Linked DNA regions of Homo sapiens. The protein of the gene in region 1 interacts with the protein of each later gene in a pairwise test. Each region holds a gene or a part of one and is shown on either strand. Other genes may lie near its edges.

What was found.
Region 2: the proteins of DYRK3 (region 1) and ZNF350 interact in a two-hybrid assay, tested with the Homo sapiens proteins (one study listed by BioGRID).
Region 3: the proteins of DYRK3 (region 1) and MAGI2 interact in a two-hybrid assay, tested with the Homo sapiens proteins (one study listed by BioGRID).

The regions. Positions count from the first base shown.
Region 1 is NC_000001.11:206,652,472-206,655,723, forward strand, and holds the end of DYRK3 (dual specificity tyrosine-phosphorylation-regulated kinase 3), read left to right. Parts: 3' UTR 1-2,687; downstream 2,688-3,252. UniProt on the Homo sapiens protein: Dual-specificity protein kinase that promotes disassembly of several types of membraneless organelles during mitosis, such as stress granules, nuclear speckles and pericentriolar material.
Region 2 is NC_000019.10:51,969,808-51,976,936, reverse strand, and holds part of ZNF350 (zinc finger protein 350), read left to right. Parts: intron 1-363; exon of another isoform or gene 364-546; intron 547-2,011; exon of another isoform or gene 2,012-2,259; intron 2,260-2,405; 5' UTR 2,406-2,576; coding exon 2,577-2,591; intron 2,592-7,129. UniProt on the Homo sapiens protein: Transcriptional repressor. Binds to a specific sequence, 5'-GGGxxxCAGxxxTTT-3', within GADD45 intron 3.
Region 3 is NC_000007.14:79,443,603-79,450,731, reverse strand, and holds part of MAGI2 (membrane-associated guanylate kinase, WW and PDZ domain-containing protein 2), read left to right. Parts: intron 1-7,129. UniProt on the Homo sapiens protein: Seems to act as a scaffold molecule at synaptic junctions by assembling neurotransmitter receptors and cell adhesion proteins. Plays a role in nerve growth factor (NGF)-induced recruitment of RAPGEF2 to late endosomes and neurite outgrowth.

The DNA.
Region 1 (3,252 bases):
AAAGTGTATAGACAACTCATTACACTGTAGACAGATTTTAGAAAGCTACAGGAAGGCAAATGGATGTTTCTGCCTCAATTTGGCAACCGAGAGAGTGATGCAGAGCAGAGTCATTGAAGTTGGCATACCTGTCTTCTGCAGGCCAATTCAAGTTTGAGGAGAGTGGGCTGCTTAAAAACATGGTGCTCGTCCACATGGATTTGAGGAAGTTTATGGTTGGGTTTCAAGCTTAGGGACAAGTTGTGGTTTTTAGAGGCAGTAACTCTATGCCACCTTATTGGCCACTGTTAAAAGTTTCACTTGGATCCCTGCCCAGCCATAGCAATGAGTGACTGAATTGGATCAGAGTTAGTACAGAAATTCAGACTGTCTCTTCCTCAGTTACTGGATTGTTCTTTAGCCATTTTTCTTCTAGTCATTTCAGTCAAACTGGTTAGGTTAGGTGACTTACTGAGTTCTAAATTGACAAATTTTAATTTCCAAGTTGTTTCTGACACGGTGAGAGTTGGGTTAGAATTTTTATTTCATTCCCCAAGTCATTTTTTCTTTTTCTTTATTTTTTCTTTTTGAGACAGAGTCTCGCTCTGTCGTCCAGGCTGGAGTGAAGTGGCGCAGTGTTGTCTGCAGCCTCAACCTCCCAGGCTCAGGTGATTCTCCCATCTCAACCTCCAGAGTAACTGGGACTACAGTCACGTGCTACCATGCCTGGCTAATTTTTTGTATATCTGTAGAGAGGGGGTTTCACCATGTTGCTCGGGCTGGTCTTGAACTCCTGGGCTCAAGTGATCCATGTGCCTTACCCTCTCAAAGTGCTGGGATTATAGGTGTGAGCGACCGTGCCCAGCCTCATTTTTTCTTTCAATATGGAAAATTGGCTAATCCACCTAATACCTGCTCATCTTCTAGTATTCTATCCTACCATCTACCCTCAGAGTTATTGATGTACTCTTTCATCATGTGCTATCATGATTTCTCCTTAGATTAGAAAGTAAGCTTCAAATGGGAGTGTGTCTTCATATTGTTCTGAATTAACAGATTTTGATGCCCGCTGATCATGTGCAGATGATGGAAGCTCATTTCCTTCCATGAACCAGGAGCATGCTCGCCTCTTCTTTTAAGTTGACCCACACAATCTCTGATGTCTTCTTTTTGGGAAAGGGTAATGAGATAAGGATTAAGGACATTTTCTTCTGGTCCAGTGTTAGATACAGTTACCTTGATAATAATGAAAAAAAAATGAATACCACCAAAACCTAACTATGATGTAAGGATTCTGCTTCTGCCCCACAGGGGCTCTGAAAGAGTCTAGCCTGGATCTTCTTTCCCAGAGGAAGTTTGACTTATGACCATATTAGTATGCTTTATTCCTTGGTGTTTAAGGGAGTTGGGGCAGACAGGTTAGCTGGCTAATGTCATTACAATTTAGTTTTTGTGACAATCTGTTAAGAAGGGGGCTTATTGCATAATCAAAAAAGAACAATAAAAAAATAAAAATTTCTACTGTGAAACTATTTCAATCTGTAGCAGCTGGTCATGTTAAAACACTTTCTGTTTTGCTTAATTCGTAACTAGGCATAATTAAAGTTAAATGCTAAATTTTAGGTAGCAGCTGATAAATGGTTCTAAGCTTTCCTGACAGAATACTCCTACTACTTTGGTGAATCATGGAAAACTCTTTCTCCTTTATTTTTAATTATTTCTTTTCCATCTGTTATTGATGTCATCAACACGGAAGTTGGAAAGGTGACAATGATTGTTCTAGACTGCCTCTGTAATGCTTTTTCTCCTCTGAGAATTAAAAATACATACTTACACCTTGAGCCAGGTAGAATTGCCAGAACATGTTTTCCTCCGTGTCTTCGGTCTAGATGACCAATCTGTAGAACGCTATAACTTACTATGCGTAGAGCAGCGGCAGGCATTCATGCTATGGAAAACCTGGAGTCAGTACAAATAAGGAGTAAGAAAAGGCCAGGGATTGGCAAATCAAAGAAGAGTTCTCTTCTGCCAGGGATTAGCCTCCTAGTTTTAAATATATTTTTAATATCCCCATTTTAACATACTCCATTTTCACCTTCAACCTATCCTTCCTGAAGCCCAAACTTTTAAAGAATTTACTTCCAGACCTGGCCTTCAGCCTAATATGATTAGGGTGTTTTTCTGAGTGTCTGTCAAATTATGCTGGCTAATTTCAATGAGAAAAGATTTTAGAGTCACAGTGAACCCATCCATAAAAGGACTAAAAGCTCTCTCTGGTCCCTGAGATCCACAACCCCTGAGAGAAGCCAGAACTACAAATGCATCGTCTAGACTTTGAAGAAGCAGGGTATGATTCTTAATATAGCCCACCCATCGCTAAGTCAAGCCTAGACTCTAATATTTTTCTATAACAGGAGAAGCCTCCCTGACTGGAGACTAGAGTCTCACATCTTCTGCCACCACATGAATAGACTAAAAAGAAAGGAGAGTCCCACATCAGGCCAAGTGGTGACCTGTGGCTATTTCAGCTCAGAATGTCAGCCTCTGAAGCATCAGGTTTGAATGACTTTGGTGTCATGGGATTCTGTCCATTGTCCGTTTGAGTCTGCTGACATGCTTCCTCTGGAAAGTGCAGTTTGGCATGGATGAGTCAGTGGTTTTTTATTTTGGGGTGTTTTTTAAAAAATAAAAATGAATTGCTTTGAGAATTTTTTAGCATCCTGATTGTTTCAAAACCAAGGCTGAGAACTGTCGCAGGCAGGAACTTGTGTGCTGTACTCTGAAGGAGGTGAGTACCAGTCGCTGGGTAATTAGGGCTGTGCTGCAGGTACAGCCTCTCTTGCTTGATGACAATGATACAGAAAGAAAATCTTGGGAAGGGAAAAGGCTGCCCTGAGAAACAGCCTTACAGAGAGTCCACCAGTATTCTTCCTTTAGTACCCAGAGCTTCTGTTCACAGTCTGGTTTGTGAGCTCCAGCCTTGCTGTGAAGGAAAATGGGAAAACATGTAGAGTGCTCAGGGCTAACCATCTCCCAGAAACCCGAATCAGCAGCTCTCCCATTTACCCTCTTGGGGCCCAAGCTCAGCTTAAGGATGAAACCTGACACGCAATAAGGAATACAGTTTATTTGGGAAGTTTGGGTGTTTTTCTTAGGCCCAGACCCCAGTCTGTGGGATAACTTTTAAAGCCTGAGGGAATTGAGTAAATGAAAGAGGAAAACAATGTTCTTAGGGGTTGTGGGCTCTGCTCCAGCCTGCTTCTGATCTGGCCC
Region 2 (7,129 bases), on another chromosome or scaffold:
AATAATGAGATAATGGCAGAAGTACAGTACGAACTAAACTCCAAGTGGAGAAAACAGAAGAATCGACTTTAAGACCTTTTTGATGAGCCTGTTTTAATCCTTCTCCTGCTGTATCCCAATTTTCCACATCAAGAGTGCCTGCCTGTGGAAACGATGGGTTATGTGTAATAACCTTTTGTGGCTTCTGCAGGAGGTTAGTGTCTGCGAATTAACCTGAGCTGCAGACTGTCTCAACAGAACTTTAAGCAACTGCACATAATGTTTTTCTTCAATAGACAAATTCTTTCCCTTGTTACCCTGAGTCAGAAAACTTCCCAGTACTTCTTTAAAGCACTGCTCCCAGTACCTCTTTAGGGCACTGACCTTATATCTGCTGCCGGCAGACTCTTCCCAGGGTCCCCTTTCGCCTTGTCAATTTCAGTTCCTCTGCTCCAGCAGACCTTCTTCATTCACGTCCTTGAAGTCCCATGTTTGGATGCTGCTAGTTGGGCGTGCTTGGAGTCCCTGTTCTGGTTGCCATTTGTAACCTGCACGGACCTAGGTGGACTAAACAAAGTGGGGTGAACACGGGAATAAAGATGAGACAAAAGAGTGTATTTGGAAGAAGGGATCGGGGGCGCTTTGCCTCTAGGGGACAAGGGCCCTGAGCTTTACACAGCCCTTCATATTTATTAGGCAAAAGAGACAGTGAGAAGGGGAGGTGGAAGAAGGGGTCAGCTGCTCGGTCCAGAGTAGTCTTGCAAGACTGCATTCTCTAGATGTCGCAGTAGATAACGGCGCCAGGGGTCCAGAGTAGTCTTGCAAGACTGCATTCTCTAGATGTCGCAGTAGATAACGGCGCCAGGGGTCCAGAGTAGTCTTGCAAGACTGCATTCTCTAGATGTCGCAGTAGATAACGGCGCCAGGGAGTGATTGCCTCCAGCAAACCTTCATCAGCCGGAGCAGTCATGAGTTTGCTGACATCCTGCATTCATGATAAACAGTTTGCTGTTTGATCTGTAGCCTCCAGTGGAATGCTGAGTTGGTCACGTCCCACGGGCCACGAGCCTTCGGCTCCCTGCAGCAGGTGCCTGTAAACTCAGCTACTCGGGAGGCTAAGGCAGAGAATTGCTTGAACCCGGGAGGCCGAGATCACACCATTGCACTCCAGCCTGGGCGACAGAGTGAGACTCCATCTCAAAAATTAAAATAAAATAAAATAAACCCCAGATGTTATTGGATTTTAATTTTTAATCCATTCTGACAGTTTTGAGGCATTTATATTTAATGTAATTAACTGGGATCCATGCTCTGTTTTTACTTAGCATAAAATACTTAATGTAATGTAATTTTCTTAGTACATTTTATTTTAAAACAGCTATCTAAATGCATTGTATTTGCTCTTTTTGCTCTGTTTTTGATTCTCTTCTTTTGGATGAATTTCTTGTTATTACATTTCCCCCTTTTGTTGGCATGGAACTTACGTACTTTAAAACAATTACTAGTTTTTTTTTTTTTTTTTTTTTTTAAGACGAGGTTTCGCTCTTTTTGACCAGACTGGAGTACAATGGCACAGGCTTGTCTCACTGCAACCTCCATCTCCCGGATTCAAGCAATTCTTCTGCCTCAGCTTCTGGAATAACTGTATTTTTATAGAGATGGGGTTTCACCATGTTGGCTAGGCCGGTCTCGGACTCCTGATGTCAGGTGATCCACCCGCCTCGGCATCCCAAAGTGCTGGGATTACAGGCGTGAGCCACTGTGCCTGGACTTACTAGTGTTAATTGTAACTAGAGATTACATGTAGTGTGCAACCTTTGTCATATTCTTCTGCTAATTGGCACTTTTCCATTCTACAGAAACCTTAGAGCACGTCAACTTTATTCACCACCTAATTATCCAGTAAATTATTGTGTATTTTAGCTTTTTATGTATTTAAAACCTCCTAAAATATTGTCAGTACTGTTTTTATGACAATGCTTATGATTTGCCCAGTACATTGGCTTTCAAACTGAAGTACATGTCTTCACAGGGTGTATGTACAAAGACTTTTGAAGAGGTGTGGGAGCACACATGATTTAAAGGAAAACAAAGACCAGGTCCTCTCCTTGCTGATTGTCTCTTTTCTAAAACTAATCTGCCTAAGAGTTCACCATCTCCTGAGGCTGGTGCTATGGTGGGTCTCATTTCCTACCTGCCTTCACAGTCCTTCCACGGAAACGTCACAGAGGAAAGGCATACCTCCACCACATTAAGAATCCTAGACATTATTGGCCACAGGTATAAAATCCGCTGGGGCTCCAAACAAAGGTATATAGTTAACTATATTGGGGGCATTGCTTTAAGATGAGTGCCTAGCAGCAGTGACAGTATCTGGGCCTGGAAAAAATGTACCACTTACATTGAATTTGCTCTTCAACCCACAGGTTCTGACTCCTCAGGAGCAAAAAACATAACCTGAAGAGGGAGGAAGTGGATTTGGGGTTCACCATTTCTTGGGGCACACTTGATTGAAAACTGAGACTTCTGAAGAGAAGGCCAGAAGATACAAAGACAGACCATCCCAGTTGAATGCTGTCTTCCAAGAACAGAAGAAAATGATCCAGGCCCAGGTAACTGACTTTTGGTTTGTTTTATTCTTTCCTTTGTTCCATAATAGATTTGTAGAAGCCTATAAACATCAATTTCACTAATATAAAAAGTATAAATTTCAAAAAGCAGGATCTGGAGAGAAGTAAGCTTAGTTTTTAAACTCAATATCATGCAAAATAGTAGGATAAGGAATATAATGTTCATAGCATTAACACTAAATTATGAATTTTGTGACACCATGCATGGCTGGAGGATCCTGTGGATTATATTAGCTGTCAGCTTGCATCTAATATCTCTGACAGCCAATGTCACAAGAAAATCATAATTTACATGGTATGTCCTGTTTTTGAAGATAAAACAGATTACTTCCTGGGGGTTGCCATTATTTCATGGCACTTTGGTCTCAGGAAATTTCTTCAGTGGTTCTTCCTAGAGTTGATGTGGTGGATGGTGTCCAGAATAGCAGCCTTCTCATAAATTCAGATGCAGGTTTCCTGTGGCTGTTTCTTGAAGGACTCCTTATATACTGTTACGGAATAGACTAAGCAAACAGTAAACACAGGGACCAACACAAGTTAATTTCAGCCTTGTGGCAGTCTGGATTTAACTTGGAATAAAACCTAGACATCCTGGGAATATGGCAGGATTCCAGGACTTTCAAATGGTTCTCAATGAACAGATAGCTGAACTGGTGTTTGAATATAGATTTGGAGACAGGGAGTTGAAAGTGATATTGTCTGAACAGGACTTGGATTGGAGTTTACAGATTTCCTTTAGACTTTCACCTTGTAGAAAATGCCAAGTCCTTATTGTATAGTAAATAATTGAACAAAGGGAGTTTTGGCCTTTGTGTTCAAGCTAATGGAGGGTGAGCTCTGGGCTTCTGGAATATCTTGCTAATGGTAGTGTCTTTGTTTGCTTGGGTCCTTTGGCCACTGGACAGCCTAAAAATACGAACTATGATAGATCTGTGATCTATGATAGGCCAGAAACTTCCAGAACTAGAGGCTAAAGTTAAAACCTGACTTCTGGGAGGGTGTGGACCTAAGATCAGCCACATAGGTCATCTGTGATTGTGTCCCAGTAAAGTAAGAAAGTACACATATCAAAAAATAAATTTCGGCTGGGCGCGGTGGCTCATGGCTGTAATCCAGCACTTTGGGAGACCGAGGTGGGTGGATCACGAGGTCTGGAGATCGAGACCATCCTGGCTCACACCGTGAAACCCTGTCTCTACTAAAAATACAAAAAATTGGTCGGGTGTGGTGGCAGGTGCCTGTAGTCCCAGCTACTCGGGAGGCTGAGGCAGGAGAATGGCGTGAACCCAGGAGACGGAAATTGCAGTGAGCCGAAATGGTGCCACTGCACTCCAGCCTGGGTGACAGAGAGACTCCATCTCAAAAAAAAAAAAAAAAAAAGTTTCTGGCTGAGTGCAGTGGCTTATGCCTACTTTGGGAGGCTTAGGCAGGAGGATTCCTTGAGCCCAGGAGTTTGAGACTAGCCTGGGCAATCTAGTGAGACCTTGTCTATATTTAGTAAAATTGAAGAAAAGAGAAAAAGTTTTCTTTTCACATATTTTCTTCCTAATCCACTTCTGTAAATGGTTGGTAATATTTACTTCCTGTCACTGTATCTGTTTGTGGATCTATGTCTATATATGTATTAATAAAAGTGTGAGTATATATGAATCTATCTGTAGATATATATATTCATTATGATATACACATATATATATTTTACATGATAGAATCATATTTCAAAGAACATAGCAGCCAACTTGAAGGGACTCTTCATTGGCCGAAGATGCTACACTTTGAACATCCAAAGACCAATGATTGCAAATGATTGAAGAACATTAATTATATAAAATTCCATCAGTTTATAGCTATACTTGAAAAAAATGCATTTGTCACCATTGGGGGTTAGGAGAGAATCAAGTATTTAATCTGAAAAATGATAAAAGATCATAAAGGTTTTGTGTGTGTGTGTGTGGCGGGGGTGGGTTGACTATGAGTTTATTTTTTACTTTTACTTTTCTGCTTTTTTTCTTTTTTCCTTTTTTTTTTTTTTTTAATTGAGATGGGGTCTTGTCATGTTGCCCAGGCTGCTCTTGAACTCCTGGGCTCAAGCAATCCTCCTGCCTCCCAAAGTGCTGGGATTACAGGCATAAGCCATTGTGCCTGGCCCTCTTGGTAATTTTGTATTACTGACCCATACTCTGCTCCTTGGCTATAAATTCCCACTTGCTTATGCTGATATTTGGAGTTAAGTCCATTCACCCTCTACCACTGCAAAATCCCATTACATTTGTCTATATACCTGTCATAATGGCCCTGAATAAAGTCTTCCTTACTGTGCTTTAACAATTCTCATTGAATAATTTTTTTAAACATGTATAGCTTAATTAAGGAGGTGAGATTCCAACGCCTTTGCCATATTCTGAATAGAGGTAAGTCACTAGGCCAGTCCCTGCTCAAGGAGAGGGTGTAGAGCACCCAATTCTGTCCCTGTTTGGGCGCCACTTGTAACCCGCACAGACCTAGGGGGACTGAACACAGTGGGGTGAACACAGGAATAAAAGACAAGAGACAAAAGTATATTCGGAGGAAGGGGTCAGGGGGTACCTTGCCTCTAGTGGACAAGGGCCCTGAGCTTTACACAGCCCTCTGCATTTATTAGGCAAAAGAGATAGTTGGGGGGGTGCAGTGGAAGTAGGGGTCAGCTGCTCAGTCCAGAGGAGGCTTGCAAGACTACATTCTCTAAATGTTGCAGTAGATAACCTCAGCACCAGGGAGTGATTGCCTCCAGAAAACCTTCTGTCGGCAGGAGCAATGGTGAGTTTGCTCACATCCTGCATTCATGATAAACAGTTTGCTGTTTGATCATATAGCCTCCAGTGGAATGCTGAGTTGGTCACGTCCCACGGACCTTTGGCTCCCTGTAAGTGGGAACTACATAAAGGTGTGAACACTGGGAGGGTGGAGTTCATTGAGCCATCAAATCTGCCTGCCATAGATCTGTCATATAGTAAACTATTTTTGAGTGTGGATTGAGGTAAGACTTTCACTTTACTTTTTTCCAAATAGATAGCTATCTCACATAAATAATTTAGAATGGGTAAACCAACCAGGATTAAGTACTTGTATCATCTACCAAGTGTGTTCACTGGCCTCTGTAATAAAATGAGTATAGAGTGTACCTTCTGCTGTTCCCTGGGTCTTCAATGACTCAATTTCCCACCAGCAGTATCCTTTAAAGCCATCCTGCATCCTGAGACAAGAGATTGACAATTCATTGATAAGTAGTCTTAATTGTCACTATTACAGGGCTGTAGGTCCTTTGCCAGCCATGCCTTTCAGTCCTAAATGGTCTTCAAGGTTGGGCTGTGTTGTCCAAGAGCTGAGGACCTTACATTTATTGTTCCAATATTTATTGGCTATAATGATTTCTGTGGAGCAGTCAGCTGTCAGAAAATTTTGTCTCCTTTGTAGGTAACCTGTCATTGGTCTTTGGATTTTTTTATAGTCTCCCTTTGTATCTGGTGTAATTTAGTTTCAATCTGTTGTGCCTACGTGTAGACTTCTTGCTTGAAAAGTTGTTGGATTTCTTGAGTTTGAATTTTGGAGTGTTTAATCAGTTCTGAAAAATTTTCAGTGTTAGATCTTTGGATATTGTTTCTCCATTACTTGATTTTCTCCTTCTTCTTGAGAAATTATCAAACTCAAGGAGGTCATAGGAACCCTCAGTTTATAATTAGTCCATCAGAAAAATAGGAGGCCTGGATTTGTGATATATGGTTGGCCCTCCATATCCATGGCTTCCACATCCATGGATTCAACCAACTGAGGATTGAAAATATATATTTTTTAAGCATCTGAACTGAGCACATACAGACTTTTTTATTGTCATGATTCCCTAAACAATATAGTATAACAACTGTTAACATACCATTTACATTGTATTAGATATTATAAGTAATCTAAAGATAATTTAAAGTATATGGGGCTGGGCACGGTGGCTCACTCCTGTAACTCCAGCACTTTGGGAGGCTGAGGTGGGTGGATCGTCTAAGGTCAGGAGTTTGAGAACAGCCTGGCCAACATAGTGAAACCCCATCTCTACTAAAAATACAAAAAATTAGCTGGTTGTGGTGGCGGGCACCTGTAATCCTAGCTACTCGGGAGGCTGAGGCAGGAGAATCGCTTGAACCTGGGAGGCGGAGGTTGCAGTGAGCCAAGATTGTACCATTGCACTCCAGCCTGGGAAAGAGGAGCAAAACTCCGTCTCAAAAAAAAAAAAAAAAAAATTAGCCAGGCGTAGTGTCACATGCCTGTAGTCCTAGCTACTTGGGAGGCTGGGGCAGAAGAATTGCCTGCTCCTGGGAGGCGGAGGTTGCAGTGAGCTGAGATTATGCCACTGCACCCCAGCCTGGGAAAGAGAGTGAGTCTCCATTTCAAAAAAACAGAAATGTATATGGGAGGATGTGCATGGGTTACATGCAAATCTGCAAGTACTATTCCATTTTATTTTATTTTATTAGAGACAGTCTTGCTCTGTT
Region 3 (7,129 bases), on another chromosome or scaffold:
TCTTGCCATAATTTGATCTAATGTGGTTGGAGATCACTCTTGTATTGAATTTTATGTGGAAGATTATTGCTTTTAGAACTCAGAATATATGCTTCTAAAGTGATATATTGAGGGGAAAGTCTCTTTTCATTCTATATTAACCCTCAGTTTCGTGCTTCACTGGTTCATTGATGATAAATTTGTATAATGATAGCCAGAGAGCCCACAGTTGGTTCATCTCCTGAACCACTGCTGACCAAAAACAAAACAAAACAAAATATTTCTTTTACCTTTTGTGGAATAATTAATTCTCTTGTATATTCTTTTAAATATGATTCATGTTGCTATTCTAATAATTCTTTTCCTCGTCAAATCATAGATTAATTTTATTTATGATTATAAAAAATGAAATTTTTCAGAACCTTTACTATAGTGCCTGTGTGTCTTAGGTTTCAATACAGATGTCATTTACTGGAAAATCATTTAGAAACTCTTGGCCCAGTAGTTATGTTTCAAGAGATGCAAAAGCTAGCATAGCTGAAAAACTTAAACATGGTTTGTTTAGCAGTTGCGTTTTTAAAACATTAATGAGACTGATTTTTGAATATTCATTCAGACATTGGGTATTATACAGAAACTACAAGAATTATCATAGTTTAAGGAAGATTTTATAAAGAAAAGGTAAGATTTGAATAATAAGAATATTGTTAATAAGTGCACCAGGTAAAATTGCATTATTTACTTAATTTTATTTACTTGTTTGCCTAATTTTACATTACAGTTATCATAATTTTCATCTGTCATAATTTTAAAAGGAGGTGAGCTCCTTTTAAAATGTTGGGATTTTAAGACATTATATATATATATATATATATGTATATATCTCACAGTGTTTCTACACTGTTTAAATACCTGCAAAACAATTTTTAAAACTGTTTAATGAAATTCAAGGAATTATCTTTTTAATTTAAGCTTTCTGCTTTTAATCCACACAATAATAAACCACATATTAAAATATGGCTTATTGTCACATCCAATTCTTTTTTATAAACTATGGCATTTTATTTGTAATAATAAACTTTCCTCACCAAAGTATGTAATTCTAAATTAGCAGTAATTCTATGATCTCGTTAATGCATCAGACCCAGTTGAAGAAAGTTTTTTGAGTGATGTTGAGATCTATATGGAAGTGCTAAAGGTCTTCTTTCCTTTTTCTTTTCCCTTTTTTAAGGTTTGCCACTAAAGTTCACAGCAGCCAGTTACACAGGCCTTTGTGGCCTACATTCCTTGCACTATGGCTGCTATTGCATCTAATACCACATAGAGACCTACATAACCTGGACTTATTTTCCCATTTAGGGTCTCACAATGGGAAATAAAAGGCAAAAAAAAAAAAAAATTCTAATTCTTCCCATGTGGAAGATGGGCCAAATAAATCCTTTGAAATTCAGTTTTAGAGAAGATCTACATTGCTCTCCCTCCTACTGCTCCTTTCAAAGATACCTTCAAAGGAAAGTAGATCCACATTTATTAAGAGTCATACTTTCTTCTTGACTGACTTCAGGCTTAGAATAATAGAGTCAGATCTCTATACTCCTTTGTATCTGAAAAGGTAAAAACAAATTATGTCAAATTTTCTGAAAATAAAGATTGACTTTTTTTCTGTAGAAATGTGAGGTATATGAATAGTGTTGTTTAATAAACAAAACATTGTTTAAACATTTTGATCAGTTTATTATTTTAGAAATAAAGTACCATTAATGTTTTGAACAAGGTTAATGAGACGGTTCTCTTGGGGCATAATTTATAAGTGATACCACTGTAGTTTTCTGGTACATGTAGATAATTTAAATGGTATGACCTCGAATGTTAAATATGATTATTTGCTTTTTATCTGTACTGTCCCTATTCTTAACATTTACACTGTTTAATCTTTTGGCATGTTTATTATGCTCACTTTCCTTTTCATTGCTTGTAACTCACAAATTCACTTTCATAATGAGAAAAGCATATTCACATTTGACATCTCTGATTGATTATAGTTTAATTAATGACTTTCAAATACATACAGACCCTGGCAGAATCATTTTCCTCAGAAGGTGGGGTAGAGCAATGGTTAAAGGTACAGTCTCCTAAGTAGACCACCTAGTTTTAATTCCTGAGTATGTCAGTTAGTGCTAGCTATATGTACAAGATAACTAACCTGGGGTAGTAATGGCACCTTAAGAATATTAGATAAGTTATGTATTTAAAGTGTGTAGTGTCTGGCAGGTGATAAGCATTATGTAGATTTTAGTAAATGCTATTGCAAACATATTGGTCATTTTGAGCTAGTGACATTATGAGGTGTTTTTAATTTTCAAGATATTTTACTCAATTCAAATTAACTGAAAAATATGAAATGATTGACATTAATATAGAGTATTTTGCAAGTTGTATTTTAAGGTTTTTTTGCAGAATGAAATAAATATTTTATTTGAAAAGAATTTATTTGAAGAATAATATCAATAAATACAATGGAAAATATTTTCACTTTTTAAAAATAACTTCCACTGATCCTCCCTTTATGTGTAAACATCTGCTATTTTATATTTATTTTATACTTTAGACATAGTTTATTTTTACATAGTAATTTGTTTTCTTCATACCGCATATCTTTACTCCCAAAGAATTGCTGAATATATTGAATTATTTACTCTAAACTTGACAACATAGAAATCCTATTAGAATTTATTAAGTTTAGGAGTTTATACTTCTTATATTAATACATCATTGTAGTTAAGAGTAAGTATCATGCTGTTGAACTTTTACTTCTCAGCTAGAAATTAAGCACCTCATAAAGAATAACAATAATAAAAGTTAACTCTTAAGTGTTCACAGTCAACAATGTATAATAAAGAGGAAATGCATCAAATTCAGCAAAAATAATACTTTGCATTTGTGAGTATTGCAATGTAAATAAGTTAAAAGGCTATTTGTATTGCATTTTATAGTATTTTATACTATACTATTTTATAGTATTTTATGGTACTGTTAAAATACCATTAAATTTAAATACTATTTAAATACTATTAACGTACTATAGTACTATTAAAATACTATTTTATAGTATTTTCATACTTTGTATGAAAGAAATGCAATATAAGTAAGTCTGTGTATTAATACTGTTACAAGGTGAAGCAACCAACAATACTTCCACTGCTAGCTTCCCCATAATTTTAGCATTTTCGTTGAATTAATCCTATTTTACAGTTCAATGGAAACATCTACCTTGAAGCTCCAGGGTTCAGTATTAATTTCTAAAAATCTCTCCTAGCTATAATCTGGCTATATATTATGACAACAAACATACAACTGCCTTAGTTTAGTGACTTTATTATTACTTACTCCATTCTATTCTCAGCTCTCTTCTGTCTCTAGTAAGTATTTGTTATATTTCCTTTAATAAAAGTAAATTATCTTATATAGAAAACTTAGTAATATAATAATTGCTGAATTTACATTGTTAAAGACTTGCATAGGGACATACATAGTACAATGTCCATATCATCATAGATAATTAATAAAAATTGCTTTTATTATTACGTCTTACTGACATCTTTGTCAACTCTAAAAGGACTTCATATTGAGATATTTTTAAAAAAGTTAAAATTTGTGTTAAGTTTAATATATATTGTTGACTGTTTTGAGTGGTCTGGAAGAAACAATAAAAGTTTCCTTCTTTGATAAGTTATTGAATATTAACTCAATTGCATCCCATTGATGTACTTTTATTTTTTCACTTATTTATTATTTTTTTTTGAGACGGAGTCTCGCTCTGTCGTCCAGGCTGGAGTGCAGTGGCGTGATCTCAGCTCACTGCAATCTCCGCCTCCCGGGTTCACGCCATTCTCCTGCCTCAGCCTCCTGAGTAGCTGGGACTACAGGTGCCCGCCATCCACGCCCGGTTAATGTTTTTGTATTTTTAGTAGATATGGGGTTTCACCGTGTTAGCCAGGATGGTCTTGATCTCCTGACCTCGTGATCCACCTGCTTCGGTCTCCCAAAGGGCTGGGATTACAGGTGTGAGCCACTGCGCCCAACCCCCATTGATATACTTTCAAAGATCCATTAGGCTAATGAGTGGGTGATTTATATGAATGGCTAGATTTGTTTCAATATTTGAAATAATTAGATGGCTTGCTCTACCTGGGGAAATAATTTCTCCATGTAATCGTTACATGAATCCTTATGAGGTTTTATGCCATTTTTATTTATTTTGGCTTACTTTAAAAAAAAAATCACTGTCAAAACCATGGCAGTTTGAGCCTAAATACTTGCTATACTTTGGATATATCATTGGATATACCCAAACACAGATATGTTACAGAAGAAAAAAATAAACCTTTATAGTGCAAAGAGAGATTTTGTCTATGTTGAATTTTCTTCTTTTTTTAATTGTACTTTAAATTTCGGGGTACACGTGCTCAACGTGCAGGTTAGTTACATATGTATACATGTGCTATGCTGGTGTGCTACACCCATTAACTTGTCATTTAACATTAGGTATATCTGCTAATGCTATCCCTCCCCCCTCCTCCCACTGCACAACAGGCCCAGGTGTGTGATGTTCCCCTTCCTGTGTCCATGTGTTCTCATTGTTCAGGTCCCACCTATGAGTGAGAACATGCGGTGTTTGGTATTTTGTCCTTGTGATAATTTGCTGAGAATGACGGTTTCCAGCTTCACCCATGTCCCTACAAAGGACATGAACTCATCCTTTTTTGTGGCTGCATAGTATTCCATGGTGTATATGTGCCACATTTTCTTAATCCAGTCTATCATTGTTGGACATTTGGCTTGGTTCCAAGTCCTTGCTATTGTGAATAGTGCCACAATAAACATATGTGGGCATGTGTCTTTATAGAAGCATGACTTATAATCCTTTGGGTATATACCCAGTAATTGGATGGCTGGGCCAAATGGTATTTCTAGTTCTAGATCCCTGAGGAATTGCCACACTGACTTCCACAATGGTTGAACTAGTTTACAGTCCCACCAACAGTGTAAAAGTGTTCCTGTTTCTCCACATCCTCTCCAGCGCCTGTTGTTTCCTGACTTTTTAATGGTTGCCATTCTAACTGGTGTGAGATGGTATCTCATTGTGGTTTTGATTTGCACTTCTCTGATGGCCAGTGATGATGAGCATTTTTTCATGTGTCTTTTGGTTTCATAAATGTCATCTTTTGAGAAGTGTCTGTTCATATCCTTTGCCCACTTTTTAATGGGGTTGTTTGTTTTTTTCTTGTAAATTTGTTTGAGTTCACTGTAGATTCTGGATATTAGCCCTTTGTCAGATGGATAGACTGCAAAAATTTTCTCCCATTCTGTAGGTTGCCTATTCACTCTGATGGTAGTTTCTTTTGCTGTGCAGAAGCTCTTTAGTTTAATTAGATCCCATTTGTCAATTTTGGATTTTGTTGCCATTGCTTTTGGTGTTTTAGACATGAAGTCCTTGCCCCTGCCTATGTCCTGAATGGTATTGCCTAGGTTTTCTTCTAGGGTTTTTATGGTTTTAGGTCTAACATTTAAGTCTTTAATCCATCTTGAATTAATTTTTATATAAGGTATAAGGAAGAGATCCAGTTTCAGCTTTCTACATATGGCTAGCCAGTTTTCCCAGCACCATTTATTAAATAGGGAATCCTTTCCCCATTGCTTGTTTTTCTCAGGTTTGTCAAAGATCAGAGAGTTGTAGATATGCGGCATTATTTCTGAGGGCTCTGTTCTGTTCCATTGGTCTATATCTCTGTTTTGGTACCAGTACCATGCTGTTTTGGTTACTGTAGCCTTGTAATATAGTTTGAAGTCAGATAGCGTGATGCCTCCAGCTTTGTTCTTTTGGCTTAGGATTGACTTGGCAATGCAGGCTCTTTTTTGGTTCCATATGAACTTTAAAGTAGTTTTTTTCCAATTCTGTGAAGAAAGTCATTGGTAGCTTGGTGGGGATAGCATTGAATCTATAAATTACCTTGGGCAGTATGGCCATTTTCACAATATTGATTCTTCCTACCCATGAGCATGGAATGTTCTTCCATTTGTTTGTATCCTCTTTAATTTCATTGAGCAGTGGTTTGTAGTTCTCCTTAAAGAGGTCCTTCACGTCCCTTGTAAGGTGGATTCCTAGGTATTTTATTCTCTTTGAAGCAATTGTGAATGGGAGTTCACTCATGATTTGACTCTGTGTTTGTCTGTTATTGGTGTATAAGAATGCTTGTGATTTTTGCACATTGATTTTGTATGCTGAGACTTTGCTGAAGTTGCTTATCAGCTTAAGGAGATTTTGGGCTGAGATGATGGGGTTTTCTGATATACAATCATGTCATCTGCAAACAGGGACAATTTGACTTCCTCTTTTCCTAATTGAATACTCTTTATTTCCTTCTCCTGCCTGATTGCCCTGGCCAGAACTTCCAACACTATGTTGAATAGGAGTGGTGAGAGAGGGCATCCCTGTCTTGAGCCAGTTTTCAAAGGGAATGCTTCCAGTTTTTGCCCATTCAGTATGATATTGACTGTGGGTTTGTCATAGATAGCTCTTATTATTTTGAGATACGTCCCATCAATACCTAATTTATTGAGAGTTTTTAGCATGAAGCGTTGTTGAATTTTGTCAAAGGCCTTTTCTGCATCTATTGAGAAAATCATATGGTTTTTATTGTTGGTTCTGTTTATATGCTGGATTACGTTTATTGATTTGCGTATGTCTAATGAAAAAATTTGTAGAAGAAATTTTATCAACCTCATAACTGCCTTATAGTGAAACACATGCATATGACATCAGGAATTTTTCTGTAAGTACCATGGATTTTATTAAGTGACTCTGTGAAATGAAGCAGAAAGAAACAAAACTATTTAATTAAAAATCAAAATGTATATTTAAAAATCTATTTTTATATTACATTGTGTTTGAAGATGTTTGTTAAAAAGTAAATTTCCCAATTCCAGCATAAATTGAATTATTTATATTGCCATGGATCAAGTGTAGCACAAAAACTGTTTATACTTTACATTGTCACTTAATAGATCACAGGGAATGTCTGAGTAAAAATAATACAAAAACAATTGCATACATTTTTAACATTTTGCATTTTACAAGTGAGTATTTTTG